Linked DNA regions of Homo sapiens: regions 2, 3, 4 and 5 are each linked to region 1. The links come from fine-mapping of genetic effects on gene expression. A gene starts in region 1. Each other region holds a variant in brackets. All regions are shown on one strand. Distances are between the middles of the regions.

Region 1 (6,012 bases):
TATAGGTGTTCCAGAAATGAAGCTCCTGTTAAGATTACTACCCATCCACATCACTGACAGTCTTCTCCTTGCTGCTCAAAAGAACAGCTTCCCATTTCTGGAGGCACATACAGGCAGCATACCTGTCCTCAGAGGACTTTTTGGAACTAGTAAAATACACAGCAGACTGAAAAGCCCTCTGTAATTAGAACAAAGATAACTTGTTAACCGCCCTTTAAACTCCTGGGAGCCTAAAGCCAGCCTCTACTTGCTACTTGCTAGAGCCTGGAAGGATTTCTCAGATTATGCAGAGTTGCTTCTGTGTGCTTTCTGAGGTCTGCCAGGGTTACTCAGCCACATCCCACTACTGAGGACCAGGACCAAGAATAAAGTGGCTCTCAGCAGGCCTACCCAAAATGCCACTCCAGGGCCCAAGAAGAGCCAACTGGTGCCTAACTGAGGCACTTGCTTTGTGTTTGTCATTTTGACGCAGCAGCTCTGAGACTACCAGGATCCCAGAGAAGACCACCAATGCAAAAATCGTATTATCTTATTTTGGACAAAAGATCCAGAAAACTGTTGGCTGGGCACGGTGGCTCACACCTGTAATCCCAGCACTTTGGGAGGCCGAGGCAGGTGGATCATGAGGTCACGGGATAGAGACCATCCTGGCTAACATGGTGAAACTCTGTCTGTACTAAAAATACAAAAAGTTAGCCGGTGTGGTGGCTGGCGCCTGTAGTCCCAGCTACTCAGGAGGTTGACGCAGGAGAATGGCGTGAACCCAGGAGGTGGAGCTTGTAGTGAGCCGAGATCGCGCCACTGCACTCTAGTCTGGGCGACATAGCAAGACTCTGTTTCCAAAAAAAAAAAAAAAAAAAAGATCCAGAAAACTGGGCCCTTATCTTGAAACCAAAGCTGCTTCTGGTTTCAGTTAATTAATTTAAACAATAAGCTGGGCGTGGTGGCTCACGCCTGTAATCCCAGAACTTTGGGAGGCCGAGGCGGGCGGATCACGAGGTCAGGAGTTCGAGACCAGCCTGGCCAACACAGTGAAACCCCATCTCTACTAAAAATACAAAAATTAGCCGGGCATGGTGGCGCATGCCTGTAGTCCCAGCTACTTGGGAGCCTGAGGCAGGAGAATTGCTTGAACCCAGGAGGCGAAGGTTGCGGTGAGCCGAGATCAGGCCACTGCACTCCAGCCTGAGCAACAGAGCTAGACTCCGTCTCAAAAAAATTAATTAATTAATTAAAAATAATTTAAACAATAAAAGATAACTGGGTAGCAGTCTTATCTGGGTTGAATCCTGGCTCTATGTCTTCTGAGCTATATGACCAGGGCCCCCTCATCTGAAAGCCAGTGATAATATCTAGCCTGCAAAATTGTCGAGGCAATTTAAAGCAATATATGTGAAGTGCCTGGCACACAGGAAGAACTCAGGAGATGGTAGCTGGTAGCAAGGCTGTAGATCTAAGCCTGGTCCCCTCAAAACACCTTTGTGATTGTCAGGCATCATATGGATGATCAAACAAGTTCGGGGAACTCATTTTCCCATGGTCCCTAAGTAGTCGAAGTGGGGTACCTCCAGGTGCAAGGGCATATGCCTAGGGCTTAAAGGCAGTGACTGCGCAGTCAGACAAGCCTTGCATCAAATCATAATTCTGGCAATCGCTGTGTGACCTAAGGCAAGTTACTTCACCTCTCTGTGCCTCTGTTTCCTCATCTATAAAACAGATGTACTGTTTCTGTCTCCTCTACCACCTCTTAAATCAACAATTGTAACGTGCAAATCTGAGACCCAATCATTTCTATTCCCCACCTTCTCAACGGGCACACCATGTTGAAGACTTTCAGAAGACAGCTTTGAAGGGAGTATCATTTTTCTAACTTTTTTTGTGCTTCTACTTTCAAGATTTCCATGTCATTAGATGCAAGTCAATCAAATGATCATACATTTTCCTACAAATGCATTGTAAACAAAATAAAAATTTTATCCCAAAGGGAAAATGAAAAAGAAAATTCAACAACTCTTTACCCCTGTAACTTCCTTTATTTTTCTCCATAGCACTGACAATATATATAGATTTCAATGTTGGGCTTGTTTTCTGCCCGGACCAGGATGTAAGCTCCATGAAGACAGTCTCAATTTTGTTCACTACCGCATCATCAGTTCCTAGAACAGAGCCTGGCACCTCTGCAGAATGTTAAATGGCTCTTCGTGAATCAACTCCAGGTGGGTTGCCCACATGAAAAACATTTCTGCATCTTTTGCAAAAGTGGCTTGGCTAGTACCATCCACTGTTTTCCAGTGTTCCTTTATGTGACATAAATCTTACTAGAACTCAGTACTAGGACAAAGTGTGTGTGTGTGTGTGTGTGTGTGTGTGTTTCCTGAGCTCACATATTTTCCACCAGCTGGGTTCGCTTCTATTGTCAGGAAGCTTGGAGCATAATTCACGTTCAATTACAGTGTTTCCCTTAATCCCTTTTTCTGATGGGGACATAGGATATAAATAAGTGTAAGAAGATTCTGTTGGTACATGTTTAAGACCCTATTTTTAACCACAGACTGCATTTATTCTACTAAGATGCTTCTCAAACTTGAATGTGCCAGAGAATCACCCGCGGATCTAGTTGAAATGCAGAATCAGACTCAGTAGGTCGGGGGCGGGGCGTGAGATGCTGCAGTTCTTACAAGCTCCCAGGTGATGCCTATGCGGCTGGGCCCTGGACCACATTTTGAGTAGCAGAGGGTCTAAGAAACGTGCTTCCTTGATTCAGCGGGATTTCTCTCTCCTGCTCCTTGGCAAAACATGACCAAAGTCTCAAAAACTGAAGCGGACGGCAGAAGCACCTAGAGAGCTGGTTAGACCTACGCCTCGCTGACCCCCCCCCCCCCCCCCCACAGCCCATGCCCGCTGTGATCCCGATGAAAGGGGCTAGGAATCCACCTAGGAAGTTCCCCAGGTGCTTCTGCTGTCGGTGGCCTCGCAGCAAATTTCGAAAATGACTGCTCTCTTCAAGGTTTTCTCAAAGGTAAACTCTTGGGGACAGCTGTTGTCACCAGTGGTACACCTGCTCGTTCAGGATTTTAGGGGGCCCATCCCGCTGTTTCCAGCCCAGCGTCAGGAGGGGACCCACCCCTCCTCTCCGGCTACTCCGACCGCGGCGGAGTCAACCCCCACGGGCCCGGGGCTCGGACCCCCGCCGCTCCGCCTCGCACAGCCGGGCCGGCCGGTGGCAGCCACCGCAGGCCCGAGAGGCGGGGACCGTGCCGCTCATGCGCAGAGCGACCCCTGGGCCCACAAGGCGGGGTCCCCGCGCGGTCCCCGCGCGCCCCCCGCCCGCCTTACCTCGCTGGACCAGGGTGGCCAAGGAGAAAGCGAGGCAGACAAGGAACGCCGAGCGCCAGGCCACCATGGCTGGGAGCAGGCGGAGGGCCCCGGAGGAGCACAGTTAGCGCGAGAGCGCCCGAAGGGGAGGCCGAGGAGGAGCGGGAGGAGGAGCCCCGCCGCCTCTGCAGGGTCCCGCCCAAAGCCCGCGCGCGCGCGCGGCGCGGCCCCGGGAAGATGGAGGTCGGGCGCGCTAGAGAGCCGGCGCCTGAGGGCGCCTGGGCTGGGGTTAGGCCGGGGGGCGGGGCGAGGCTGCAGTATCGGGGGCGGGGCCGCGTTCTGGAGGCGGGGCTCCGGGCGAGGGGCGTGGCCTGCGGGCACCCGGTGGGTGGGGAGGCCTGGGTTGGGTTGGGCTGGGTCCAGCGGCAGCGCGCGGTCCGCAGACCCTGTCCCACCTCGGTCCTCGAGACCGAAGTCTCGGAGGTGGCCCCGCGGACCTGGAGCAGTGAGTCACCAGTGCCGGGGAGCGGGAGGCGGCAGCGCCGGTGGGCGCCGATTTCCTCCCGGGTGACCTTGAGAAGGGCTCTTCCCCTTCTGGCCTTGGTGTTCTCCCGGTGAAGGGTTGTTCCCTTGGGGCCCCTCCAGACACCGTCCAGCACGGAGCCCCGCACTCTGTCCCCACCCGCTGTTCCCTGCAGGAGTGAAACCCTGGCCGGAGACTGAAGAAAAGGACCGTTTTCGTGACTGGCTGCGGTCAACAAGCAGTGACACGTCTCGAGAAAACGAGGCCGGGGGCGCCCGGGTGGGCGACAGGGGAGGATGGGGGCGTCCCGGAGCCGAAGCGCCGCGGGCTCGGGAGACTGGGGGTAGGGACTGGGTCAGCTCTCCCGAGGCTTTGATGAATGCGCTGAAAGTGCAAGTTCATATCTGCAGAGTCGATCTCAAAAACGTGCTTAATGACCGACAAACGCGCTGCAGTCCTTTCCCATGAACCCCCGCAAACGGAGTCCGTCTCCCAGACCCGAAGAAATCAGATTCCGATACGATACTGTGCCGACCAGCAAAATGCCCGCTGCAGCAGTTGATGGGAACGCTCCCTAGAAGAGCCCCAGCTGCAACCGGCTCTCGAAGACAAAGAGGAAGCGCTACTGCTCTCCGGAGTGGTAGCGTGAGCCTGTCCCTGCCATTATGCGGCACCGGCTGCCCAGGGCCACATCCTCCTTAGAGGGCGGCTACTACCACCTCCCCTCAATATCCATTCGGCAGCTTTCCTGTGCCCCCAACCCAGCCCTCGCTGCCATAGGCACCCCCCTCAGTGGCTCCCACCAACCCCTAAGGAACAGTGGGGTGTGGGGTCTCCCTGAGATGGAGCCGAAATCTCCCGTGTGGCTTACATCCATTGCCCTGAATCTTAGGGCTGCAGAAACAAAACAGCATATGAGGAGTGGATCTTCCCAGGCTCAGGGCATTAATTACTCTATGAATGGAACATTATTCCATTCTAGCTGTAGAATTAACAGAAATAGCTGGTAGTTATTGAACACACACTATACACATGGCATATTCCAGGCATTTTACCCTTAATTTTTATTCCTCACAATGCCTTATGTATCATCACCTATTAACGAGGGAAAAGCAGCAAAATGGAGGTTCCTTGAGGTTGGGGAGTTAGCCAGGTCTAGTCTCATGTGTCAAAGGGGGAGGGTACCACTAGGAACCCCAGCTGGTGAATGGCTAAGAATGTGTGCTGTAGAGCCAGACCGGGTACAAATCCTGGCTAAACCCAACAAGGTTGTGCTAAGGATTAAATGAGGTGGTGAAAAGTGGACAGCCTGCACACAGTGACAGAGGGCAGGGACCATTACTGGTTAATCTAGTAACGGCTAAGGAAATAGTGGCCACTGTGAGGTCAGGAGGTTACTGTCTATTCCAGGCTGTGGACATGCCCCCACCTTTGCTACTAAGTGCCCTGAGCCATTCCATAGGCCCTGGTGGTACCATCTGTACCTGGAGGGCAGTAGATTTTCTGGTCTTTAGGAGTCTTCCAGGATCTGATGGGTAAACCCTGATGCATACACACTCATCTACACTGAGGAGGTGAGAAGCATGTAACCTCTTAAGTTTGAGGCCATGTCAATCAATATGCAGTGGACAGTCACACTCAACTGGAACTCTAGCTGCTAAAGGTGCTACAATGCCATATGCAATAAGACTGTCTTCTAGCTCAAGAATAGTTCTCAAACTACACCCCGTGGGCTAAATCCTACTCCCACCTGTTTGTTCAGCCTTCCAGCTAAAAGTAGTGGTTGCATTTTTAAATGGTTGAAAAAAATCAAAAGAATGTTATGACATGAGAAAGTGATACAACATTCAAATTTCAGGGTTCATGAAGTTTATGAGAACACAGCCACGCCCATTGATTTTTGTATTCCCTATGGTGGCTTTTGTGCTGCCACAGTGGAGTTGAACAGTTGTGATAGAGACCATGGGGCACACAAAGCCTAAAATATTTACTGTCTAACCCTTACAGAAAAAGTTTACTGACCTCCGTTCTAGCAGATTGAACCATGGCAAGGATGAACATTAGCAGGTGATGATATGGGACCTTAAGAGTGTGCTCCTCTAAAGCGCAAAATGAACATAGATGACCTGCTCTGACACAGGAATAAGAACCAAAAGAAAAGGACAATGTTTATC
Region 2 (6,012 bases), 49 kb before region 1:
GACCCTACTGCAGTGAGTTAATGTGAGGATTAAATAATCATTATATATAAAGCATTTAGCACAATATGTGACATAGGAATCCCTCAAATGTTAGCTAATATTATTATTAAATTTGGTATTAAGTAGAATCCACTAGTAAGTAGAAGGCCTTCAATAAATATGCATGAGTAAATGGCTTATAAGAGAATCATTAAAATGTTCAAAAGCTTAATGGATGAAGAGAGAAAAAAGCCACACTCTAATCTAAACTCACCCAGTGCTTGATAAGCCTTTAGATTCTACTGATACGACATAAGTTTGGGAAACTGAGGCACAAGAATGTAAGTGATTTGGACAAGGCCACCCCAAATCAGTCTGTTGACTAATAACAAATGCACATGGTATTTCCTTCCCCTGAAGGCAGCATAAACACCAATGGATCCTGTGTACTTTCTTAAGTCAGGTAAGAATCTATGTCTAGTTGGTGTTGCATGTATGAACATTTCCAAATCAGAGCCAGGCAGAGTGGAACAGGACCTCAGAAATCATCAAGATTTTCAGCCTTGCCATCTGGCCAGGCCAATGCAGAGGGAGAAAGGCGCTGAGCACGAGGCACCTCCTACCCTGTATCCCCAACCCAGACCTTTGTCCTCAATTCCAATCCTGCAGGTCCTGCTACCCAGGGGAGATTTCCATAGCACCTCCAAGGAAGCATGTCCTGAATTGGACTCTGTCTTCCCTTGTGCTAGTAATCCTGGTCCAGCTATCCTTGTGCTAGTAATACCCAGTCTTAACTACTGTTGTGTTGTAGTAAGTTTTGAAATGGGGAAGTGTGAGTCTACCAACTTTGTGCCTGTTTTTCAAGCTTGTTTGGCTATTTTGGGTCCCTTGGATTTCTGTATGAATTTTAGGATCAGCTTGTCAATTTCTGCAAAAAGACAGCTGGGATTCTGATAGGGATTGTGTTGAATCTGTAGTTCAATTTGGGAAGTATCATTCCATCTATTTTTAAACATGCTCAAATCTCTCCCATTTTAACTAGAAAACCCTCTTTTGACTGTACATCCCCATCTTGATACTGCTTTCTCTCCCACCCCTTCATAACCAAACTCATAAAATGACTATCTATCCTTGCTGTATCTGCTTGCTCCCTCTCAAATCACTCCTCAGTATCTCACAGCCAGCTCCCACTCAGAATCCACAAAACTAAATGCCAAGCCCTGGCTCTCCAACCTAGACCCTTTTCCTGAGTTCCCTGTTTGTTTCACTGAATGGCACAGCCACCCACTGCATTGTCCAAGCCAGAAAGCTGTACACTGTCCCGACATCTTCTCCTTCATTCTCCATAGCCACCCTGTCACCAAGAACTGTCAATTCCACCCCCAGCACATGCACAAAGCCCACCACTTTTCCACTGCCACTACCAAGCCAGGCAGCGATCATCTTTCCCCTGGACAGCCACAAGCACCATCCTCCTGCTCCTTCCAGGTCTATGCTCCATCCAATCCATTCTCCACACAGCAGGCAGGGAGTCCTCCTTTTTCCTTTTTAAACAAACTTCAAGGCACATCACTTCCCTGCTCAAAACTCCCAAAGGCCTCCTCACTACACTGAATATAAGCTCCATATGCCTAACTATGGCCTGCAGGCCCCCCCCCCCTTGTACTATACCTCTCACAGTATTACATAAATTATATTATTTGTTTTCAAATAATGTGTGTCCACTGTGAAAATCTTAGAAAATGCAGAAAAGAAGAAATAAAATAACGGCAAGTGGTTAACAATATGGGTGAACCTTGAAAACATTATGCTAAGTGTAATAAGTCAATCACAAGAAGGCAAATACTATATTCCCATTTTATGAGGTCCCTAGAGTAGTCAAATTCACAGAGATAGATGGTAGAATGATGACTGCCAGGGGCTGGGGAGAGTGGGAGATGGGAAATTGCTTAATGATTAGAGGTTCAGTTTTGCAAGATAAAAAAGTTATGGAGATTGGTTGTACAACAATGTGAACACCCTTAACACCACTAACAATACACTTAGAAATCATCTAAGATGGTAAGTATTATGTGGGTTCTTTTTCCACAATTTAAAAAAAAAAAAAAAAACAGCAAGTGATGCTTTTTAAAAATCAAAATTCAGAAAGACAAAGCCAATTATCTCAAGGCATGTTAACTTTGGACAGAATCTGAAATATCATCTAATTGACCATCCCTAAAATGCAGCAAAGTAATCTCCAGTGTATAATAGAGGTTCTCAGCCAGGGAGGATGAGCTGACCAACCTCAGAAACCTCCTCCCCCTCAGAATTCACTGGGCTGGGGACCCAGGCATGTGCTTTGGAAGTACATTCATTCGTTGGAAGAGTCACGTTTTTGGAAAGTTTTTTGTGTTGACCCCAAAACTGGCCAGTAGATTACCCTGGCACTACAAAGAATAAGTTTGTCCCCTGCTGTCGTATGCTCCTTTAGACATGTGGATCCCGTGCTAAGGGTCACTGGCTACCCGCACCAGGAGATCCTGTCTCCCCACCACAACCTCCACTTCAACCACTTCCTCCCTTTGACTTGTGCAACTTTTCTCCATGAACTTGTCCATGTGCGTCATACTGC[C/T]GGGAAACAGCTTGCTCAAATTCCCTTCCCAAATATACCTAATGGCAGACTGTGGCCTCTATCAACAATCACACTCAAATTCAACACCTGTGTACACAGTTAGGCGATGAAGCCCCAACAGCCGTTGGCACTTCTGTGGTGCTTTGTAAACACTGACTAAGCAATCTGGTGAGCAGCGTCAAAAACAGAATGAGGCCAGGCACGGTGGCTCATGACTGTAATCTCAGCACATTGGGAGGCCAAGGCAGGATGATTGCTTGAGCCCAGGAGTTTGAGACCAGCCTGAGCAACATAGTGAGACCCTGTCCCTATAAAATTTTTAAAAAATTAAAAATTAGCTGGGTATGGTAGTACATGCCTGTAGTCCCAGCTACTTGGGAGGCTGAGGCAGGAGGATTACTTGAGCCAGCCAGGGTGACAGGGTGAGACTCCATCTCTACAAAAAGTTTTTTAAAATTAGCCAAGTGTGGTGGCATACACCTGTAGTCCCAGCTACTCAGCAGGCTGAGGTGGGAGGATTGCTTGAGCCCAGGAGGTTGAGGCTGCAGTGAGCCATGACCGCACCACTGCGCTCCAGCCTGGGAGACAGAGGTAGACTCTGTCTCAAATTGAAACTATACAAAACAAAACACAGAATGAGCTAGCCCTTGTATATCAGTACATCCTGCTCCATAACCTTCTGAAGCCAGCTTGTCATGGAAGCAGGCAATCAGTCTGGCTCATTCCACACCACAAATCTTCCAAGTGAGTAAGAACCCACTGATTCCTGCATCTGTAGAAAATGGGAGATAGGATGTATGACAACTTCAAGGAACATTACTAGGCCCACATCTGCTTGATCTGGCCAACTAAATCCCTAAGCCAGTTCTATATAATATAAATTAAATAAGCATTTAATACTACGCAAAATAAAATTACAGCTATTCAGCTGACCTTTCCCCTTTTCCACTCTGTATTTGTGCCTGTTTACAAGCCCAGTGGGGAAGGTATGCCAAGAATAGAGATGTTCTGAGGACACAACAAGCCAATTAAAACAACAAAACAAAACAAAAAACTAGAAATGACAAATATCCTGCAAGTCTAGATTGTTGAACATGCCTGATCAGGTTGGAGAGGGAAGCAGGAGGAGCCCAAAGAAAGTCTCCTGTATGTCCTAAAGTGGAATCTAGCTTGCCTACTTTCTAAGCCACATTCCAGCCCACATGTGTCCCTTAAGACATGAACCAAGCCAGGCTTGGCAGCAGGCACCTCACCATTAAGGCCAGCTCAGCAGTGGCCATGCTCACCACTCAGAGCCCAGCAACTTAGTAGACCACGTTTATCCCCCAGTTTCACAGAACACATGCCCCTGACAGGGATCCCAAATTTCCCATCCCTACCTAGAACATGTAGGCACCAGCGGACGTGCACATAGAAACAAATATTACACCAGAGGGCTACCCATGTTGCAACAAAGTGATTCTCACAGAGATAAATGTTGCAACAAAGTGATAGAAACACAGTACAACAAAGTGATACTCCATAGAAACAAATGTTGCAACAAAGGATGATCTTATTTGTGTGAAGGACTAATATTTCCTATTCCATTTTATCTCATTCAATATGCTAGTTGCAACTCAACTACTTGCACAGGCCACTGATGGGTTGAGCCCCAGGTGCAACAACATTGTACAGATGCTGCCTAAGAAGTGAGGTGTTTCTTGTATCACAGCCAATCCAGGACTGAAGAAACTCTCTAACCAGGAGTACTTTTTTTTCTTTCTTTTTTTTTTGTTTTTTGAGATGAAGTCTCGCTCTGTCACCCAGACAGAAGTGCAGTGGCACGATCTCAGCTCACCGCAACCTCTGCCTCCCGGGTTCAAGTGATTCTCCTGCCTCAGCCTCCCAAGAAGCTGGGATTACAGGCACGTGCCACGGCACGCGGCTAATTTTTTGTATTTTTAGTAGAGACAGGGTTTCACCATGTTGGCCAGGCTAGTCTTGAACTCCTGACCTCAGGTAATCTGCCTGCCTCGGCCTCCCAAAGTGCTAGGATTATAGGTGTGAGCCACCGCACCCAGCCTACCATGAGTATTTTCTAACCAAATGTGAAAGCCCTCCCCTCCAAGTCAAGACATCTGAATCCTTCACTTGATTCTGTGCCTTCGAACTTGGGCAAATTGCTCCCATCTTCTTCCTCCCTTTTCCCATTCTGTAGAAGGAAGGGATGGGATTAGATAATATAGGACAACATCCACTTATTGAGGACCTAGCAAGGAGCAGCTGCCATGTCAGACACATGGCATCAACACTTCAGTGGTTTGTGAGCTGGCATGGTGCCGATGAGCAGCCTCTTTCACCAATGAGGAGCTGAGGCTCAGATAGATGCAGCAGCACGGGGTCATGCAGCTGGACAGGTCTGATTCCCCCACACATGCCTGCCCCTAAGGTGCTCTAAAAGTAAAGTGCTATGATGAGACAGCTGTATTTTCTATTGGTGCTATAACAAATTCCCACATAGTGGCTCAAAACAGGACAATTTTATGACCTTGCAGTTCCAGAGATCAGAAGTCTAAAATGGGTGGCCCTGGGTTAAAACCGGGGCACCAGCAGGCTGTGTTCCTTCTGAAGCTTCCAATCCATTTCCTTGCCTTTGCCAGCTTCTGGAGGTCACCTGCATTCCTTACTTAGCTCATGGCTCTTTCTCCATTTTCAAAGTATATCACTCCAAACCCTGCTTCTATAATCACATCTACCTCCCTCTTTGACATATCAGGCCCCCTTTGATCACATTGGGCCCACTTGGATAATCCAGGACAATTTCCCATCTTAAGATCCATAACTTAGCCCTATTTGAAAGTCCCGTTTGCCATGTAACGTCACATATTCACAGGTCCCAGAGATTAGGATGTGGACCTCTGAGCAGGGAGGGAACATTAGTCTACTGACCACAACAGCCAATAACCATCATCTGTTTTACTGTTTCAAGCATTTAAATTGTTCACTACTGCTTGGATGAAAGAACTCTTCTCCACATCATTACTCCAGAGTGAAAATCCACTTTATGCTGGGTAGTTAAGGAAGGTGTGCCAGGGTGGTGAACTTACACTAAAAGGGGCCAACTCTGGAGTTGCAGAAGTGCATTTGGCCAAAACAACATTTTTAGAAGTTCGCTCTGTTGTGTGGAGACTTGTTTGTAGGAGGCCAGTTGGGGAGCTGTGGTTGTTTTCCAAACCTGTAAGGACAATGGCTGAGCACAGGATGACAGCTCCCCATCACACCCTGGACCTCTGGACTTCACTTGGTTGCTAAACTTCAGCAGGCTCTATCCCACCTCAGGGCCCTCAGGGGTCCCTCTGCCCGGAAGACTCCTCCCATCTCTTCCCTTCACTAAATTCTGCTTGGGCACCTCAGACTCCTTTTTGAACAGCTTTGTTGAA
Region 3 (6,012 bases), 130 kb before region 1:
GTGTAAGATGTCTGTGGGAAGGAGAAGCTCCTGAAATGAACGTTCTGCAAACAGAAGGCTGAGGGGTCTTCCAGGCATGTCCAGTCACTAGGAGCTGCCACCGGTGGGCTTGAGTGCCAGGCTCTAGGCTTTGTGCAGAAAGCACCCGGGGCGGGGGGCGGTAAGGGAGAGCAAAATGGGTCTCTCTCAACTGCAGTCAGTGCTCCTGGGAACACGGTCTCACAGACAGCACATATTCTACGTCACAGCTCTAGGGTTTCAAGGACTTAGCCATCCGACAGGCCTCACCATAAAGGTAAAGTGGACAACCCCTGAGGTCACGCTGTCCAGGTGGCGACAGGCCACGCATGCCAAAATCCTCCATAGCCACCTCCGGCCCAGCACCAGCCAGAGGGTGGGGCCATCGGTTCTCGACATACTTGGTATCAGGGAGGGACAAGCCTGACAAAGTTCACAATCTGGCCAATGAGTGTGGGAGGCCCTGGAAACAGGCCAATCCTGCAAGCCACCCCACCCTTACTAACTTCCTGAAGCATGGGAAGCTTCTCGAGACCAGGCCAAGGTTTCTTTCCTTCATGGCACCACGCAGAGGCATTTCTGCAGTGCTGCAGGTCCCCCTTCAGCCACACAGTCCAGGTCTGTCAGGGATTAAAGGGCCGAGCAGGAAAAGGGGTGGTAAGGAGCTCAAGGGCACGCACTGGGAATGGCCTCACAAGGCAGCCTTGAGACGCACAGGGCTACAACTGACCACCCTCCACCACAGGCATGTTTGCAAAACGAACACGAGGCATGCGTTAGACAGATGCATGTGGGGGCTGCAGATTCCAGTGGTTTCCTTAAGAAACTGGAGTTGGCTCATCCCACTCAGCAGACAATCCCGCTCAGTGGACAGCCTATGAAACGCATGGGGCCATCATGCAGACCAAAGAGGCCCGTGAGTTTTGTAAGATCCTGCCTGTCTGGTGACTCATATCTGCTTTCAGAAGTGCTTTCTGACACAGCAAACTGACTATCAGTAGACAGGGGCCCTAGACCCTAGCATGTGGTTCTGTCCCGTGAGCCTCTGACAACAGAGCTCACCGGGACAGAACCATATGTGGGCCAAAGGAACATTCCAGGAAACCAGCTCTGCTCCAGCCCAAACCAGGCAGCTCCACGCCAGGTGAGGGGCGAGTCATGGGGTTCCTGTGTTTGCCACGGTGAGCATGGCTCCCCACGCACTCTCCCTCAGAGCAGACAAGTAGGCTGACCACAGAGCTACAAAGTCACCTGCGTTTCACTAAACCAAGCGAATGTCTCTTTCCCCTCTCCTCCCCCGCCGCCCCCAATTACATTTTTAAGCAAACAAGCAGGATTCTGGCTTTGATGCTCGTTCTTGACATCGGTCACTCTTGCTACCAAAACAGGGACACAGGGTGGAGGGTGAGCACCTCTCCCCAACACAGGATAAAACTCATCTCCGGTGCAGAAATGATTGCTAAAGACCTTTCTCATGTCAACCCGAAGGCCACACCCAGCCCCCTATGGAATCAGATGGGAAACAGGCCTACGAATTGCTTCATACTTATCCGGAAGATTCCTAAGCTCTCAAGGCAGGACTATCACGAGATGCATGTTTGTACTTAAATCACTGAAAGCCTCCGCTTGGACCGGCTCTCCGGAAGCCCAGCAACATAAAACCTGGGATGGGGAAGACTGAAGTGAAACCATCATCCTGGGTGCTGCGTGTGTGTGGTGTTACTTGGTGCTGACCGGTTCGCTCCTTGCAGGGGCTCCAAGTGGGTGCAGGCTGAGCCCCCCACCTGCAGCTCCTTGAGGCCACTGTCAGGGGCTGTCTATTGGCAGAAACCTGCCACAATGAGCCACTCCAGTGTGCAGGGGTCACAGTCCCTTGAGTTCAAACTCTTGTCCCCTAAGCATAAATGTCATCAGGCCTCAGCATCATCTTGGCCCCCGCATCCTGTGCTCAGTAAAGCTGGAGGCAGGCTGGCTTTGGGAGTTGGTGGCTCAGCAGCTCCCGAGGCTGGTGCTGGCTTTCTATCAGAGCTGGCTCTTGAATTTCGGCACCAAGTCTCAGCACGCTTGGGGCAGGGCAGAGAAACCAAACTCACAAACACCCAGAGCTCATCCGGGAAACTCAGACCAACAAGGAGCCGATGGCACAGAGCAGCACAGCAGCTG[C/T]GGGTCCAAATGAAGGGGTGGGGGGAGCCGGGTGACAAGCGGTGGCACCATTGTGCATGCCTGCAGCTGGACAGGGCCCTCAGATCCGGGCTGGTTCGGGCGGCGGCGGCGGCTCTGCAGACTGCGTGTGCAACGTGGAGTATTTCACTAGGGGAAAAAGAGGCCGTCAGAAGGAATTCTGCTCTGTCTTGCACAGAAGAAGCAAATACAGCAGCAAGCCCGTGCTGGGAACAGAACTGGGTTTCCCTTTGTATCCCCTGGGGGGCCGCTTAGCAACCTTCCCTCCTGAGCCTGGGAGCAGTTTTGGGCCGGTCAAGGGGAGAGAAAGAGAAAGCTGGACAGGCTCTGGAAACAGCTCAGCCTCCATCTCCTCACCTAAAAAATGAGCGTGTTCCTGCCAGCGCTGCTGGAAGGGTTATTTTAAACAAAGGGCTCAACCTAGCACCTGCCCACACAGATGCTGGCCTCGTGGTGGCTAACCGTGGCAAAGCTCATGACAGTGGATGCGACAGCGGAATCCATTTTTCCACATCTGAACCCAGGCCTATTTTAGTTCATTTGGTGCAGCACTGCCACCCGTCTTCAGCAGCATTGTAGGGCACCTGGCTCCCAGTACACACCACACAGGCTGAGCCCCTCCTGGTCTCCCAGGCCCAGTCCCCACGGCTGCTGCACTGTAGTTCCACTGGCAACACTCGCCTGAGCTGTCCTAGTCTCCCTGCCTGCGCCACCAGGCCTCGGCTGCTCCCCGACCCCAGCAAGCCTTTCCGGACCTCCTCATTGGCATCCCGTGGGCACAGGTCATATCTGCCTCGAGCAGTTGGGCACTCTAGGCCTGTGGCCTGAACTTATGCGACCTCAAATTGCCAACAGCTCCTGAATCCAGAAAGTGCTTGATGACCACAGAAGGGGGAGGGAGGGGCACAGGTGTTGACAATAGGGTCTGGGTTTTACCCAAGTTCCCTCTTGCCTGTGGCAATTTGCAAAGGGAAAAGTTCTAGGTCTAGGTGAAAAGCTTCCCCATGGCTCTGTTCAGGATGTAATTGTATTCGCTGATGGGGAGCAGAGGTGCCTGGGGCTCTGGCTCGGACGGACGAATCAAGGGCAGGGGCCGAGCAGCCGCAATGCCCAGAAGTCACAGGCATGGCAGCAGATGGCCCTGGCTGTCACCCCAGCATCTTTGGGCTCCTGAAACTGGGAGGCAGGCTCATCAGGGCAGGCTTTTGCTCTGGCCGGACATTCTAGAAGCAGACGCCTCTGTGCTTCCCTGCTTCTCTAGCACAGTTCTGCTCAGTGCTGGGACCAACTAGGAAAGCGTCAGCAAGGGACAGTGAGTACAAAGTTCTCACCTTGGGGTTCCTCACATACCACGGCTTCCAGGTTCTCTCCCTTCACGTAGTCTGCGTTGAGACCCTCTGCAAAGGGAAAAGGGCAGAGTTAGTGATGCGCACAGGACCTAAGGGTCCCCAATCGTGACTGAGAACTCCTGACCAAGTCCTCTGCAGCTAAAAAAGCAGCACAGCTCCCCTGGGGAACTCAAAACCCTGCACCCTGAGCCACCTGAACATCCTTATCCGGATGAAGACTGTTCGTCCCAGAATTCACTGCCCAGGAGTTCTCATCATCGTCCTCAGAAATAACAACGACATGCAGCGAAGGCTTCCGGCACTCCATCCTCATAGGGCAGCTGCCACCGCGTCAAGACGGCAGCTCCGCCCAGTGGAGGGGGCGCCCGATGGCAGGGCTCAGCACCATCCACAGGTCCGTGTGCGTGTGCGGCCCGGGGGCCAGGGAGCCAATCGCTATGAGTGATTGATGGATGCAGGGCAGGGAGGGGCGGATGGCTGAGTGGGGCTCAGCATGTAGATGCAGCAAAGCCTCCTGCCAACATGCAGCCTCCCAGCAACACCCGCGCGGAGGCCAACTGCTCCTCCCAGCAGCAGGAATAACCGCTGTGTCCACCTGAGCTTGGAGGGGCCAGCCCACCAGCAGCTGCTTCAGTCTAGTTAGTTATCTAGGCTTTCTCTACACCTGTTACAAGAGGGATTCGGGGACTGTACCAAGCATTCCCTCCCGCCAGCAAGGGCCAGTGTTCAAGTTCTTAGAGTGGACCCCACCCCTGCTGCTGCTTGCAGAGAGTCAAGAGTCTGTGTCTCATCCCTGCGTAGCACAGGGACTGGAACCCTTCAGCCCCGGGTCTGTGGGAAAACTGGGGCATGGTTCCAACCGACCGACCGACCGACCAGGCACCAGTGCAAGTCAAGCCATCGTCCTGGGCTACAGGCTCCTTGCCTAAACAAGAATGCCCACCACCTGCCTGCCCCGGTGGCTGCTGGGCTTGAGGTGGGAGCCAAATGGGCCTGTGGCAAATGCGGGCGTTGCTCTTTGGCAGGTGTGGCCGGCCCCACGCAGAGCGGGGCAGGTGATGAGTGCAGTGGAAGCTGCCCCAGGTGCACCTTCCCAGCTGACAGGTGGGGGCCAGGAGACACACCCTGAGCCTCGTGATCACTGCTAGCTGCCAACCCAGTGGGCGCTGGATCGTCTCCTTCCTGTGGGTGGCCCTCTATGTGCTCCCCAGGCATGACCACCAGTGGGCACCTGAGTCCTCACCATGGCACCTCAACTCTCCCCCCACCCCTGCCACATCCAGCCTGGGGACAGAGTGTCTGGCAGGTGGCATCCTCTCACACGCATCAGGGTAAGCTAAAGATGGTCCTGGTTACAGCCACGTCGGTGAGTGCCAGGGAAGCAGGAGGGAGAAGAGCGGCAAGGAAGCGCCAGAGCAGGGGGCGAATGAGGAAGCATCAAGGCTGAAGCAAAAGGAAAGTGAGGAAGGCAAAGCAGCGTTACCTTGACCTGCTGCTGCATCTGAAGGCAAGACACAAAGCTTAGAATCCCTGGAGTAAGAGCGCTCCTGACAGCAAACATGCGGGCTTTCCACACTGAGGGCAAAGGCAAGGGAAGCCAAGGGTCCCCAGCATGGGCCTTTTGGCAGCAGCAGAGGCCGAGAGCACCTGAGGGCCACAGTGGTGGGGGCAGGCCTTCCTCGCAGCCACCTCCTGCTGTCTCCCCAGAGCTTGGTGTTCTGCACCCCGGTCCCCTCTACCGCCATCTCCATGTGGCAGTGGCTGAGACTCAGGGGAAAGAGTGGGGACAGGAGGCCCAACCCCCAGCTTCTCAGTGTTTTCAGCCACCCCACAAACGTCTGCGGGACTCCTCCTGATTCTGGCCCGGGCCAGGTGCCAGGGACATGATGTACACGCAGCCCCGCCACGGAATGGACGGTCCAGAGACTCCTGATCACGGAGGGGGCAAGGCGAGCTGGGAGTCGCACACTCAGAAACCAACCGGCCCAATCCCGCCCCATGAGCACCAGGTGAGGTCAGCAGGGGGCGCTGTAGGACCACAGGCTGGGAGAGGCTGCTCCAGGCCTGCAGGGCGAGAGGAGCTAGGTCAGGACGGGGGACAGCAGAGGCCCGGGATGGGGATGGAAGAGCACCTGGCGCCCTCGGGAAGTGAAAGGCCTCTGGGAAGCCTATGGAGGGGAAAGGATGTGGTTGGGACCAAACCATGAAGGGCTTCCACTGCCAAACTCAGGCTCAGCCAGGACCTTGAGGGCAGCAGGAAGCATAAGGGGGATCCAGGCATTTTAAAACAGGTCCCGCTGGAGGAGCGTGAGGTGTGGAGGAGACTGCACAGGCAAAAAGGTCTATGGAACCTTTTGGACGGGAGATGAGGAGAAGACCTTGGCTCTGGACTGGCAGGGGCCATGGCAATGGTGATAGGGAGGTGTGGCTCAAGAGGAGACCTACACAGGTGGCACAAATCCCA
Region 4 (6,012 bases), 60 kb after region 1:
CACGGTAGCACTTACTCTGTTTGCACAATAGTCCCTGACCCATCCACCCTTCTGTTGTCAGCCTTGAATTAGATTTGTTATTGTATTTTATTTGTTTTAATTATATGGAACACTTCGTGAACTTGTGCAGGGGCCATGCTAATCTTATCTATATAGTTCCAACTTTAGTATATGTGTTGCTGAAATGAGCACTCAAATTAGGTTTGATTACAGCAAAATTAAGGATTCCTTTCCATGAAGGACAGCACAGATAGAATTAACAGACAGACAACAGATGGGGAGAAGATATTTGCTGTTTAAAAGCAACAGGAGATTAATGGATAAAATATGCAAGAACATTCTGCAAAACAACAAGAAAAAGACCCAACAGGAAAATGAGCAAAGCATATGCATAGGCAATTCTTAGGAGAAGAAACTGAAAAGGCTGGCAAGTAAGTATGTGAAGAGATGCTGGGATCCCAGATTCATTAGTAATCGGAGAAATGGAAATGACAACAATGACATAGGATACACACATGTCAGATTGGCAAAAATCAGCTGTATGATGCCAAGTGTTGGCTAGAATAAGCAGAAGGAGGAACCATTGTGTGCCGCTGCTGGGAGTCCTGCTAGATGGATGCAGGCGCTTTGGAGAGCCACCTAGTAGCATTTAGCCAAATCTTGTCTGTGCCCACACTGTCCCAGTAAGCCCATTCTTGGGTATAACCTCAAGAAATTCTCCTGCAGGCCCACAAAGGGACTGAGTATCTTGTGGCTGCTGTAACAAAATATCACAAACTCAATGGCTCAAAACAACAGAAATGTATTCTCTGATACTTCTGGAGTCAAGAGGTCCAAAATCAGTATCCTTTGGCCGAACCCCAGATGTCAGCAGGGCTATGCTCTCTCAGGAGGTTCTGGGGGGTCTCCACTCCTTGCTTCTTCCAGCTTCTGGTGGCTGCCAGCCTTCCCTGGTCTGCGGCTGCATCGCTTTGATGTTCAAGGCCAGCATCTTCGAATCTCTCCGCTCCCTCTTCACTCTGCCTTCTCTGTGTGAGTGTCAAATCTACCTCTGCTTCTCTTTTATAAGGATATAAGAGTAGTGGGCTGAATAATGTCCCCCCAAATTCACATTCACTTAGAACCTCAGAAAGTGACCTTATTTGGAAATAGGGTCTTTGAAGATGTAATTTGTTAAGATGAGGTCATACTGGAGTAGGAGGGGCCCTTAATCCAATTTCTGCTGTCCTTATAAGAGGACAAAAGGACAGAGAGACAGGGAAGACCATGTGAAGACGAGGCAGAGGTTGGAGTGATGCTGCCACAAACCAAGGAACACCTGAGTCCACTAGAATCCGGAAGAGGCAAGGAGGGGATTCGGAGGCACTGTGGCCCTCCTGACACCTTGATTTCAGACTTCTGGCCTCCAGAACAGTGAGAGAGTAGATTTCTATTGTCTTAAGCCACCAAATTTGTGGTACAGTACTTTGTTACAGCAACCACAGAAAACCAATACAACATGTGACTTCCTTTCCAGCCCACCCTGATAACCCAGGATAATCTCCCCATCTCAAAATCCTCAACACGATCACATCCGCAAAGACCCTTTTTCCATATAAGGCAACATTCACAGACTCCAAGCATTAGGACCTGATACCTTTGGGGTCCATCTTGAGCCTGCTATAGGGACCCATGCAAGGATGTTTATTGTACAGAGCCTGTGCTAGGACAGAATTGGAGGCAATCCAGGTGTCCACCACTGGGGAAAAATAGAAGCAAATGAGTGGTTACAAGCAACTCAGGAACACACAGCAGCATGGACAGTTAACACACACAGGGCTCAGTGGAAAAGCACCCAGTAAGAGACTGAACACACTCTCCAGGCCACTACCACTTATGTTTACTGAAAACACACACACACACACACACACACACACACACACACACACCCCTCTACACAGTTTGACAGAGCACACACTTGAGTGGTTGCCACTGAGGGGAGGAGCATTAGAGTGGAAAACAGTAATTAAAAAGACTGGAGAGATGGATAGATTGATTCAGCCAGAGAAGAATCTCACAGACCAATGATGGTGAGATCATGAATTGAGAAGCAACATTACCTGAAAGCCAAACAAACAAACAAACAAACAAACAAATGGAAAGAAAAAGTCTGTGAGAGGTCCTTTCTGGGGAAAGCTGGCCACCTCTGCAAGTGCCTGGTGTGTTTTGCATAAAGACACATGGTCCCCCAGCCTGGGCAACACAGCAGGTAACAACTTGTCTCTACAAAAAAAAAAAAAAAAAATTAATTATCTGGGCATAGACCGGGCGTGGTGGCTCACACCTGTAATCCCAGCACTTTGGGAGGGTGACGCAGGTGGATCACCTGAGGTCAGGAGTTCGAGACCAGCCTGGTCAAGATCGCGAAACCTCATTTCTACTCAAAATTAGCTGGGCGTGGTGGAGCGCGACTATAGTCCCAGCTACTCCAGAGGCTGAGACAGGAGAATTGCTTGAACCTGGGAGGCGGAGGTTGCAGTGAGCAGAGATCGTGCCATTGCACTCCAGCCTAGGCGACAGAGCAAGACTCCGTCTCGGGGAAAAAAAAAAAAAAAATCCGGGCATGGCAATACATGCCTGAAGTCCCAGCTACCCAGGAGGCTGAGGTGGGAGGATCTCTTGAACCTGGGAGGTCGAGGCTACAGTGAGCCATGATGGTGCCACTGCACTCCAGTGTGGGCGACAGAGCCACGCCTGTCTCAAAAAATAAATAAACAAATATAAATAAATAAATAATAAATAAATTAAAAAGACACATTGTTCCTTCAGTTGGAGCAGCAGTGGGTGGCAGCTAGGGACCTTCATCCTTCCCTACTGTTTGGGGAGGGTGGAACCATGTGGCCT[G/C]CAGAATGGAGAGAGGACATCCTCCCTAGCAACACCAAGGAACAAAGGAAGCCACACTAATGCCATTTGCTGTTGCCTGCCAGTTGTGTTCCATCTGCTGCACTGAGTGTTCCCTCCCAGCAGCCTTGAGCAGCCAGCTGGCATTGTTGGCTCATCCACTGGTCTTAGTTAGGCTTCCCATTATTTGATTCATTCTTGGAACACACCCTGGCCTTCCTCTTTCCGGATGCAATACTTCTCTCAGTGCCACTTGGTCAAGTAGCAGGGATGAGGCCAGTGGCCCTGGAAATAGGCATCTAAACGGTCGCGAATTCGGAATCAGCTTGGTAAACGGTCAGTCATTTTTAACCCCTGGAGAGGGTTTGGATCTTGTTTGTTTAATGCCCCATTGGGTTCCTCATAGTTCCTTGTAAAGTTCCCTTTGAAAATGCCGTCCTACCATGTACGGTGGCTCACGTCTGTAATTCCAGCACTTTGGGAGGCCAAGGCGGGAGGATTATTTGAGGTCAGGAGTTCAAGACCAGCCTGGCCAACATAGTGAAACCCCATCTCCACTAAAAATACAAAAATTAGCCAGGCATGGTGGCACACGCCTGTAATCCCAGCTACCCGGAAGGCTGAGGCACGAGAATGGTTTGAACCCGGGAGGTGGAGGTTGCAGTGAGCCGAGATCACGCCACTGCACTCCAGCCTGGGCGACAGAGTGAGACTCCATCAAAAAAAGAAAGGAAGGAAGGAAGGAAGGAAGGAAGGAAGGAAGGAAGGAAGGAGAAAATGCCATCCTATCTTGACTATGCTTGGGAAGGAAAGAGAACCTGACTTTTAATGTCTTGTCTGTTAGTACCAAGGCCAGAGGGAAAAGGGGAGTAATATTTTATTATAACCTTTTCTTTATCCTCCACAAAGGCCTTTTAGCAGAACTGACCTTAAATGTTTTAAAATCTAACAACAACAAGAAAAATGTGATGTGGCATTCACCTGTGCTCTTATCTGGGCTCTTCTTGATCCACTTAGGGATTCATATTTCCGGGTTCACCGACAGCTGGTTAACTTTGCTATTCATTCCTGCCCACCTCCTCACACCCACTGTTGCAGTCATACCCACGAGACTCAATTTGCAAATACAGGTGAGGAATCAGGCAGTAATTTTTCATCTCCGAAGATGCCTTAACAGCCTGCTCCAGGTCTGTGCTCTTCATGAGCAAATACTTCATTTGAGCCTCGCCATATTTGACACAGCTGGCAGTCCCTGTTCAAAACTGGAACTAGTGCTAAAAACAAAATTCATATAGAGACAGCAACGTATTCTTAGTTGTTTGCTTGGGAGACAGGGATTTGGCCAAACCAGGCAAGGGAAGATGAGAGAGCAGGCAGGAGTAACTTGCCTTGTTTTCCTCCCCATAAGTGTTCCTTGCTGCCTGCTAAGGGAGGCCTTCAGCCAATCACTCAGCCCCTAGAGGCTCAAGTTATTCATCTGTACAATGAGGTTGAAACTAGACAAGTGTTTTCACACTCTGTTGGTGGAAGGTCCTGGGAGGTGCTTCAGGAGCCACCATTGAGGGGATTTAGCAGGTGGGGATCTGGACCTCCTTTTTCAATCATCACTCCTCTGTTTGCATCTGTTGTTTCTATAGGCAATGATTTCATTTGAAAAGTAATTGATTTCGGTGCTAAGAAAATCATTAGAGACTGAGCATGGTGGTTCATGCCTGTAATCCCAACACTTTGGGAGGCCGAGGAGGATTGCTTGAGCCCAGGAGTTTGAGACCAGCCTGGGTAGCATACTGGGACCCTGTCTTTACTAAAAACAAAACAAAATTAGCTGGGCACGGTGGTGCCCAACTGTGGTCCCAGCTACTTGGGAGGCTGAGGTGGGAGGATTGCTTCAGCCTGGGAGGTCGAGGCTGCAGTGAGCCATGATTGCATCACTGTACTTCAGCCTGGGCAACAGAGGGAGAGCCTGTCTCAAAAACAAACAAACAAACAAACAAAGGAAAAAGCCCATACCTTGGACTAGATGAACTCTAAGGACTCTGTGTTAGTTTCCTGGGCTGCCATAACAAAGTACTACAAACTAGGGGGCTTTGAACAACAGGAATATTTAGCCTTTCACGGTTCTGGAGGCCGGAAGTCTAAAATCAGTATCTCTGGGTTGAAACCAAGGTGCTGGCAGGGCCCTGTTTCCTCTGGAAGCTCAAAGGGAGAATCCATTCCTTGTCTCTTCCAGCTTCTGGCAACTTCCTGCATTTCTTGGCTTAAGGATGCATCACTCTGATCTTTAAGACCAGCATCTTCAAATCTGTCTCTGCTCCAGCTTCACATCACCTTCTCATCTGTGCATCAAATCTTTCTCTGCCTCCCTCATAAGGATATACGTGGTTGCATGTAGGACCTACCCAGATAATCCAGAATAGTGTCCCCATCTCAAAATCCTAAACATGATCACATGTACATAAACCTCATTTTATTTATTTATTTATTTTTGCCATTTAAATTAACATTATTGTGGGTAATAAGAGAGAGAGGAAACAAAACAAGTAAGTTAACACTTACAGGTTTTGGTGATTAGAATGTGGATCTCTACTGGGGGACCAGTTTGTAGCCTACCACAGGCCCTTTCAAAAATCAGGTTCTAAGATCCCCTTTCCCCCAAATAATTCCTATCTCAGTAGCTTTCTATACATTCTTATGTCTTAAAGAACCTAAAAGAAGACCGGGTACGGTAGCTCACGCTTATAATCCCAGCACTTTGGGAGGTCAAGGTGGGTGGATCATGAGGTCAGGAGTTCAAGACCAGCCTGGCCAACATGGTGAAACCCCTGTCTCCACTAAAAACAAAAAAATTAGCTGGGCGTGGTGGCAGGTGCTGGTAATCCCAGGTACTCGGGAGGCTGAGGCAGAGAATTGCTCAAACCTGGGAGGCGGAGGTCGCAGTGAGCCGAGATCACACCACTGCACTCCAGCCTGGACAACAGAGTGAGACTCTGTCTAAAAACAAACAAACAAACAAAAAAACCAAAAAACAAACAAACAAACAAAAAACTAAAAAACAAAACCGAAAAGTACAGCATTACTTTTTATTTAACTCAGGAATAGGGAACCCAAACTTGACTCCTTCATCATGAAAGA
Region 5 (6,012 bases), 22 kb after region 1:
CCCCAGTGTGGCAGCATTGAGAGGTGGGGCCTTTAAGAGATGATTGTGTCATGAGGGCTCTGCCCTCATGAGTGGACTAATCCATTCATGGTTTAATGGATTAATGGGTTATCACAGGAGTGGAACTGGTGGCTTTATAAGAAAAGGAAGAGAGACCTGAGTGAGCATGCTCAGCCCCCTCGACATGTGATGTCCTTTGCCACCTCAGTACTCTGCAGAATCCCCGCCGGCAAGAAGTCCCTGACCAGATGCAGCCCCTCAACCTTGGACGTTTCAGCCTCCACAACTGTAAGAAATAAATTCCTTTTCCTTATAAATTACCCAGTTTGGGGTATTCTGTTATAAACAACAGAAAACGGGCTAAGAGAGTTAGAGATGCTTCCTGAATCACAACAGAAAGTTCTGTACATCTTTTATCCCTATACCCTCTGAGGAGCTTATTCTGCTCTAGACGGACAGAGGTGATATCCCACTCATCTCCTGGTCAGCTCACAGTGCCTGGATGCATGTCATGTTCTGGGTACCAGTAGCCTCTCTGAGAGACATTAACAGGCTGGATTTGCTTCAGGAGCCAGTGATCAGGATGTTAAAGGGAAGTTAGAATTTTCTTTTCTTTTCTTTTCTTTCTTTTTCTTTTTTTTTTTTTTTTTGAGATAGAGTCTCTCTCTGTCACCCAGGCCGGACTGCAGTGGTGTGATCTTGGCTCACTGCAACCTCTGCCACCCAGGTTCAAGCGATTTTCCTGCCTCAGCCTCCCGAGTAACTGGGACTACAGGCATGCACCACCACGTCCAGTTAATTTTTGCGTTTTTAGTAGAGATGTGGTTTCATCATGTTGGCCAGGCTGGTCTTGAACTCCTGACCTCTAGCAATCTGCCCGCCTTGGCCTCCCAAAGTGCTAGGATTACAGGTGTGAGCCACTGCACCTGACCTATGGAAGTCGGAATTTTCATACAATGAATAATCTTGGTGAGTGTTTGGACCGGAGAAAAAGATGACTGTAAGGGGTAAAAAGGAAAGGAGTGATGAGGGAGACTCCTGGAGGGAGCTCCTGGGGAATTTGATCTGTATTCTGTGGCCTCAGCTTATGAAAATAAGGATAAAGGGGAAAAGCTACAGGGTGATGGACTCTGGAACTTTCTTGTTTTAAAAGAGACAGAGTCTCACCCTGTCACCCAGGCTGGAGTGTAGTGGTATGATCATAGCTCACTGTAGACACAAACTTTCGGACTCAGGTAATCCTCCTGCCTTAGCCCCCCAAGTAGCTAGAACGATAGATACATGCCACCCCACCCAGCTAATTTTTTTAATTTTTATTTTTGTAGAGATGAGTCTTACTATGTTGCCCAGGCTGGTCTCTAACTGCTGGCCTCAAGTGATCCTCCCCGCCTTGGCCTTCCAAAGTGCTGGGATTAGAGGCATGAGCCACCATGCCTGCCTGGCTGGATTCGGGAACTTCCTAAGGGGCAGAACAACCTCAAGATGGAGGAGCTGCCTCTGTAGGAAGGGAGTTCCCATTCTTCAAGATATCCAGCCTAGTCTCCCTTTGAGGTCCTTTTCAACCTAGAGGCCCCATGACTCTCCTCCCGCATGAGGGTTGAGCCAGGATAATATGGAAAGTCTGGGTTCCAAAACTGCTAGAGAAAAGCAAAAAGAGGTTTGGCAGGTCCTTTGGTTAGCCCCACATTTGAGACACACCTCTGAGGCTCTGCCACGTCCCACCCATGGCTGAACGGAATCATACACAGATTTTTCTGCCCACCTTTCCACACTCACCCTGTGATCCAGAGCTCAGAGAGTGAGACTGAGAGAGCTCATGCCAGGAGCTTTTAGTTGTCAAGAAAAGGAGTCATCGTGTCTTTAGAAACAGGATGAATGCGGAAAGCATACACACTGAAACGATTTCTAAGATTCTATATAGATCAAGGCCAGGGTCTAGCTGCTGAATTGGGGCCTAGCCTATCCTTTCCAGACAACACAATTCTAAAGTGCATTTCTCTCTTTTTTTTTAAAATTTATTATTATTATACTTTAAGTTTTAGGGTACATGTGTAAAGTGCATTTCTCAACACACCCCTTCATCTCTTGAAAATGAAATGCTGCCGGCCGCGGTGGCTCACGCCTGTAATGCCAGCACTTTGGGAGGCTGAGGTGGGCGGATCACGAGGTCAGGAGTTCGAGACCAGTCTGACGAACACAGGGAAACCCCTTCTCTGCTAAAAATACAAAACAAAATTAGCCGGGTTTGGTGGCGGGCACCTGTAATTCCAGCTACTCAAGAGGCTGAGGCAAGAGAATCACTTGAACCCAGGAGGCGGAGGTTGCAGTGAGCTGAGATAGCGCCACTGTACTCAAGCCTGGGCAATAGAGCGAGACTCTGTCTCAAAGAAAAAAAAAAAGAAAAGAAACAAGAAAAAGAAAATGAAATGTAATCCATGTCCTTGCAGGTTCTTCATCAGATCTGCATTGAGAGCTACATGAGAGGCTTTCCAAGCACAGCACAATAGAGCAGGGGCCTCCCTCAGTGTAATCTGCTTCAGCCCCCATGTTTAAAGAGGAAGGGACTGAGGCCCAGAAATGGGGAACAACTTGTCCAAGGTCACACAGGAAGGCAGTGGCAACATAAACCAGGCCTTGTGCCTTCACATGGGCTCAGTGCCATTGCAGCATTGCAGGCAGTGTGACTTACCCTGCTGTGGCTTTTCAGTGGCCCCCTGGGGGCCACACCTGCCACCCTGTTCTCCCTGCTAAAAGGTCTTTTCCTTTGTACCAGGTACTTCTGTCAAGTCCAAATCAAGCAGAATGGGTTCCAACCAGCAGCAGGGTTTTCACTTGTAAGCAAACCACAGAAGGGATCAGCCACCAACCCAACAGATGAACAACTTGACTTGCTTTCCAATGGAGCCCAGCATTTGAAGCTGTGATAATTGTCAGTTTAAATGTTAGTAAGTGAATGCTTGTAATTTACAAGTGAAGCTGCTTCTCTTATCAAGGGTCCCATTTCCTGTGGGCTGTTTGGAAGTATAAACTGTTATCAGAGGATTTGTGCTTATTTGAGGCTTGGCTTGCCCATCTGGTCAGAGAGAGAAAGTCTGGAGAGTATGCTGAGTCTAATTCTGCTGTACCCCATGACGAGCCTGTCCTGTTCAACATTCCACTTGCGGTCCATGAATCAAGCGCTATTCATGGGCACAGAACAGAATGAACCAACCTAAACCATTTCGCTTGCTTGACATTCTCTAAATCCCACTCCCCCCTTTAAACGCACAAGCTCAGGGCCTGTTTCAAAGGGCAAATATTGTGAAAATGAAGAAATT[A/G]TTACAGATTATACTTGGAAAGAGTTCAAATGTTGTTGAAATACCGTGATCTGTAGGTGGCATGTCTTCAAAGAGATTCATTTGAATAGATCAGGCTGAGGAACAGTCAATAGCAAAATAGTTATTTGTGTATCAAGTATGGACAAATTCTCACATACCAGGAGGCTGCGAGACAGCACTTTCACAAGCTGATTTTAGATTTTGGCCCAACAGCTCTAAAGGCAAAGGCTTTCTAGGCTAAAGGGATGATTAGAAAGATAATAGACAAAGTCAACTCCAGATGTACCAGTTGACCACCCCTCTGCCAACTGAAACCCTACTCTTGGGTTGATTTCACAGCTCAGGAGGGGAGCTCAAACTCAAACTTGTCAATTTTGTGACTCAATAACAGACCCACTTTGGGGTGGGAGAAAAATGGAAGTATGAGCTAAAAAGGAGATTCTTTCAATTGCCTTTGCCCTTCTGTTTTCTAGGCTGTCTATGTCCTCCAACAGCTCAGAGACTCAGAGTTGATGCGCTGGATTCTACTGCAAGTTGCGTCTTGATAAACATAGTTACTATGTGAGCCAGCAAATTCCATTTCTAGATATATACCCAAGAGAAATAAAAACTCATGTTCACAGGAATGCTTGTACACAAATGATCATAGCAGCATCATTCATAATAGCCAAAGTGGGAGCAAACCAAATGTCCATCAAGCAATGGATGGATAAACAAAATGTGATCCAGTCATACAATGGAATATTATTCAGCCATTAAAAGAAATGAAATACTGATCTGTGCTCAAACATGGATGGACCTTGAAAACATTAGGCTAAATGGAAAATGCCAGACACAGAAGATAGGACACATAATCAGACACATGTTGTATGATTCCATTTATATGAAATGTACAGAATGGGCAAATCCACAGAGACAGAAAGCAGATGAATGGTTTCCAGGGGCTGGGGGGAGAGGGATGAAGAATGACTCCTTAATGGGTGCAGGGTTTCTTGTAGGGTGAAGAAAATATTCTAAAATTGATTTTATAATGGTGATTGCCCAACTCTGTGAATGTACTAGAAACCACAGGTAGTACATTTTAAAATGGTTAAGTGGTAAATGTCTTTTTTAAACATTTTATTATCACTATATATATCATAAAAGTTATTATTTTGACCACTATTAAGTATGCAATTCATTGACATTAAGTACATTTACAATATTGTGCAACTGTCACCACCATCCATCTCCAGAACTTTCTCATCATCCTAAACTGCAACTCCATACCCATTAAATACTTGCTATTACTCCCTCCCTTCCCCCAGCCCCTGGAGATTTGTTTTGTTTTGTTTTGTTTTGAGATGGCATCTCAGTCTGTCACCCAGGTTGGAGTGCAGCAGTGCAACCTCAGCTCACTGCAACCTCTGCCTCCAGGGTTCAAGCAATTCTCCTGCCTCAGCCTCCCGAGTAGCTGGGATTACAGGTATGCGCCATCACACCCAGCTAATTTTTGTATTTTTAGTAGAGATGGGTTTTTGCCATGTTGGCCAGGCTGGTCTCGAACTCCTGACCTCAGGCAAGCTGCCCGCCTTGGCCTCCCAAAAAAAAAAAGTGCTGGGATTACAGGCGTGAGTCACCGCCCCCAGACCCCACTGGAGATTTCTAATCTATTTGCTCTCAATGATTTTGACTATTCTAGGTACTTTATATAAGTGGAATCAAACAATATTTGGCCTTTTGTGTCCGGTTTATTTCACTTAGCATAATGTTTTCAAAGTTCATTTGTCGGCCAAGTGTGGTGGGTCACGCCTGTAACCCCAGCACTTTAGGAGGCTGAGGCAAGTGGATCACTTGAGCTCAGGAGTTTGAGACCAGACTGGGCAATATGGCGAAATCTCATCTCTACAAAAACAAACAAATGGACAAAAAATTACCCGGATATGATGGCATGCACCTGTAGTCCCACCTACTTGGGAGGCTGAGATGGGGGGATTGCTTCAACCTGGGACGTCAAGGCTACAGTGAGCAGAGATGGCACCACTGTACTCCAGCATGGGTGACAGAGCAAGACCCTGTCTTTTTTTTTCTTTTTTTAAGAGGGAGTCTCACTCTGTTGCCAGGCTGAAGTGCAGTGGCATGATCTCGGCTCACTGCAACCTCCGCCTCCCGGGTTCAAGCGATTCTCCTGCCTCAGCCTCCCGAGTAGCTGTGACTACAAGTGCACACCACCACACCCAGCTAATTTTTGTATTTTTAGTAGAGATGGGGTTTCACCATGTTGGCCAGGATGCTCTCGATCTCTTGACTTCGAGACCTGCCCGCCTCAGCCTCCCACCGTGCTGGGATTACAGGCGTGAGCCACCACACCTGACTCCAAGACCCTGTCTTAAAAACAAAATAAAATAAAAACAAAAACAAAAAACAAAGTTCATTCATGTTGTAGAATGGATTAAAATGTTAAATTTTATATTATGTGAGTTTTATCTCAATTTTAAAATGATTGGCTGGGCACAATGGCTCACGCCTGTAATCACAGCACTTTGAGAGGCTGAGGTGGGCAGATTGCTTAAGCTCAGGAGTTCAAGGCCAGCCTGGGCAACATAGTTAGACCTCATCTCTACAACAACAACAACAAAATACAAAAATTAGCCAGGCATGGTGGTGCCACCGTACTCCAGCCTGGGTGACAGAGACCCAGTCTCAAAAAAAAAAA

Alleles and levels. Alleles are on the strand shown, and positions count from the first base shown. SD is a standard deviation of normalised expression in the study named. Not every link is listed here.
With allele G in place of C in region 4, the expression in spleen of the gene that starts at base 3,483 in region 1 is lower (small effect, 0.15 SD a copy in GTEx).
For the expression in tibial nerve of the gene that starts at base 3,483 in region 1, G is the high allele of the variant in region 5 and A is the other (small effect, 0.23 SD a copy in GTEx).

Evidence for each region. PIP is the estimated chance that this variant, and not a neighbour inherited with it, causes the effect.
Region 2: its variant is fine-mapped to the expression of CD99L2 in nasal epithelium (TOPMed, PIP above 0.99).
Region 3: its variant is fine-mapped to the expression of CD99L2 in lung (TOPMed, PIP above 0.99). The same link has a PIP of 0.9 or more in caudate and pituitary.
Region 4: its variant is fine-mapped to the expression of CD99L2 in spleen (GTEx, PIP 0.98).
Region 5: its variant is fine-mapped to the expression of CD99L2 in tibial nerve (GTEx, PIP above 0.99).

What each region holds. Positions count from the first base shown.
Region 1 is chrX:150,895,186-150,901,197 of GRCh38, forward strand. It overlaps CD99L2 (CD99 molecule like 2), which reads right to left and starts at 3,483. Exons shown (of 11, transcript NM_031462.4): 1 at 3,337-3,483. The coding sequence starts at 3,403. RefSeq lists a silencer at 3,158-3,767.
Region 2 is chrX:150,846,484-150,852,495 of GRCh38, forward strand. The region is part of intron 1 of CD99L2 (CD99 molecule like 2); the gene reads right to left. Among named protein-coding and RNA genes, the nearest start is that of CD99L2, 49 kb to the right of the region's middle. The variant C/T (reference allele first, on the strand shown) is at 2,594.
Region 3 is chrX:150,766,774-150,772,785 of GRCh38, forward strand. CD99L2 (CD99 molecule like 2) reads right to left here. Exons shown (of 11, transcript NM_031462.4): 10 at 3,531-3,596; 11 at 1-2,328. The coding sequence ends at 2,261. Among named protein-coding and RNA genes, the nearest start is that of MTMR1, 76 kb to the left of the region's middle. RefSeq lists a silencer at 915-1,024 and enhancers at 5,093-5,640, 5,641-6,012. The variant C/T (reference allele first, on the strand shown) is at 2,182.
Region 4 is chrX:150,955,396-150,961,407 of GRCh38, forward strand. It overlaps the pseudogene RNU6-383P. Among named protein-coding and RNA genes, the nearest start is that of HMGB3, 25 kb to the right of the region's middle. The variant G/C (reference allele first, on the strand shown) is at 2,884.
Region 5 is chrX:150,916,996-150,923,007 of GRCh38, forward strand. It overlaps LINC02927 (long intergenic non-protein coding RNA 2927), which reads left to right and starts at 207. Exons shown (of 3, transcript NR_186570.1): 1 at 207-288; 2 at 2,774-2,941; 3 at 3,791-3,943. The variant A/G (reference allele first, on the strand shown) is at 3,318.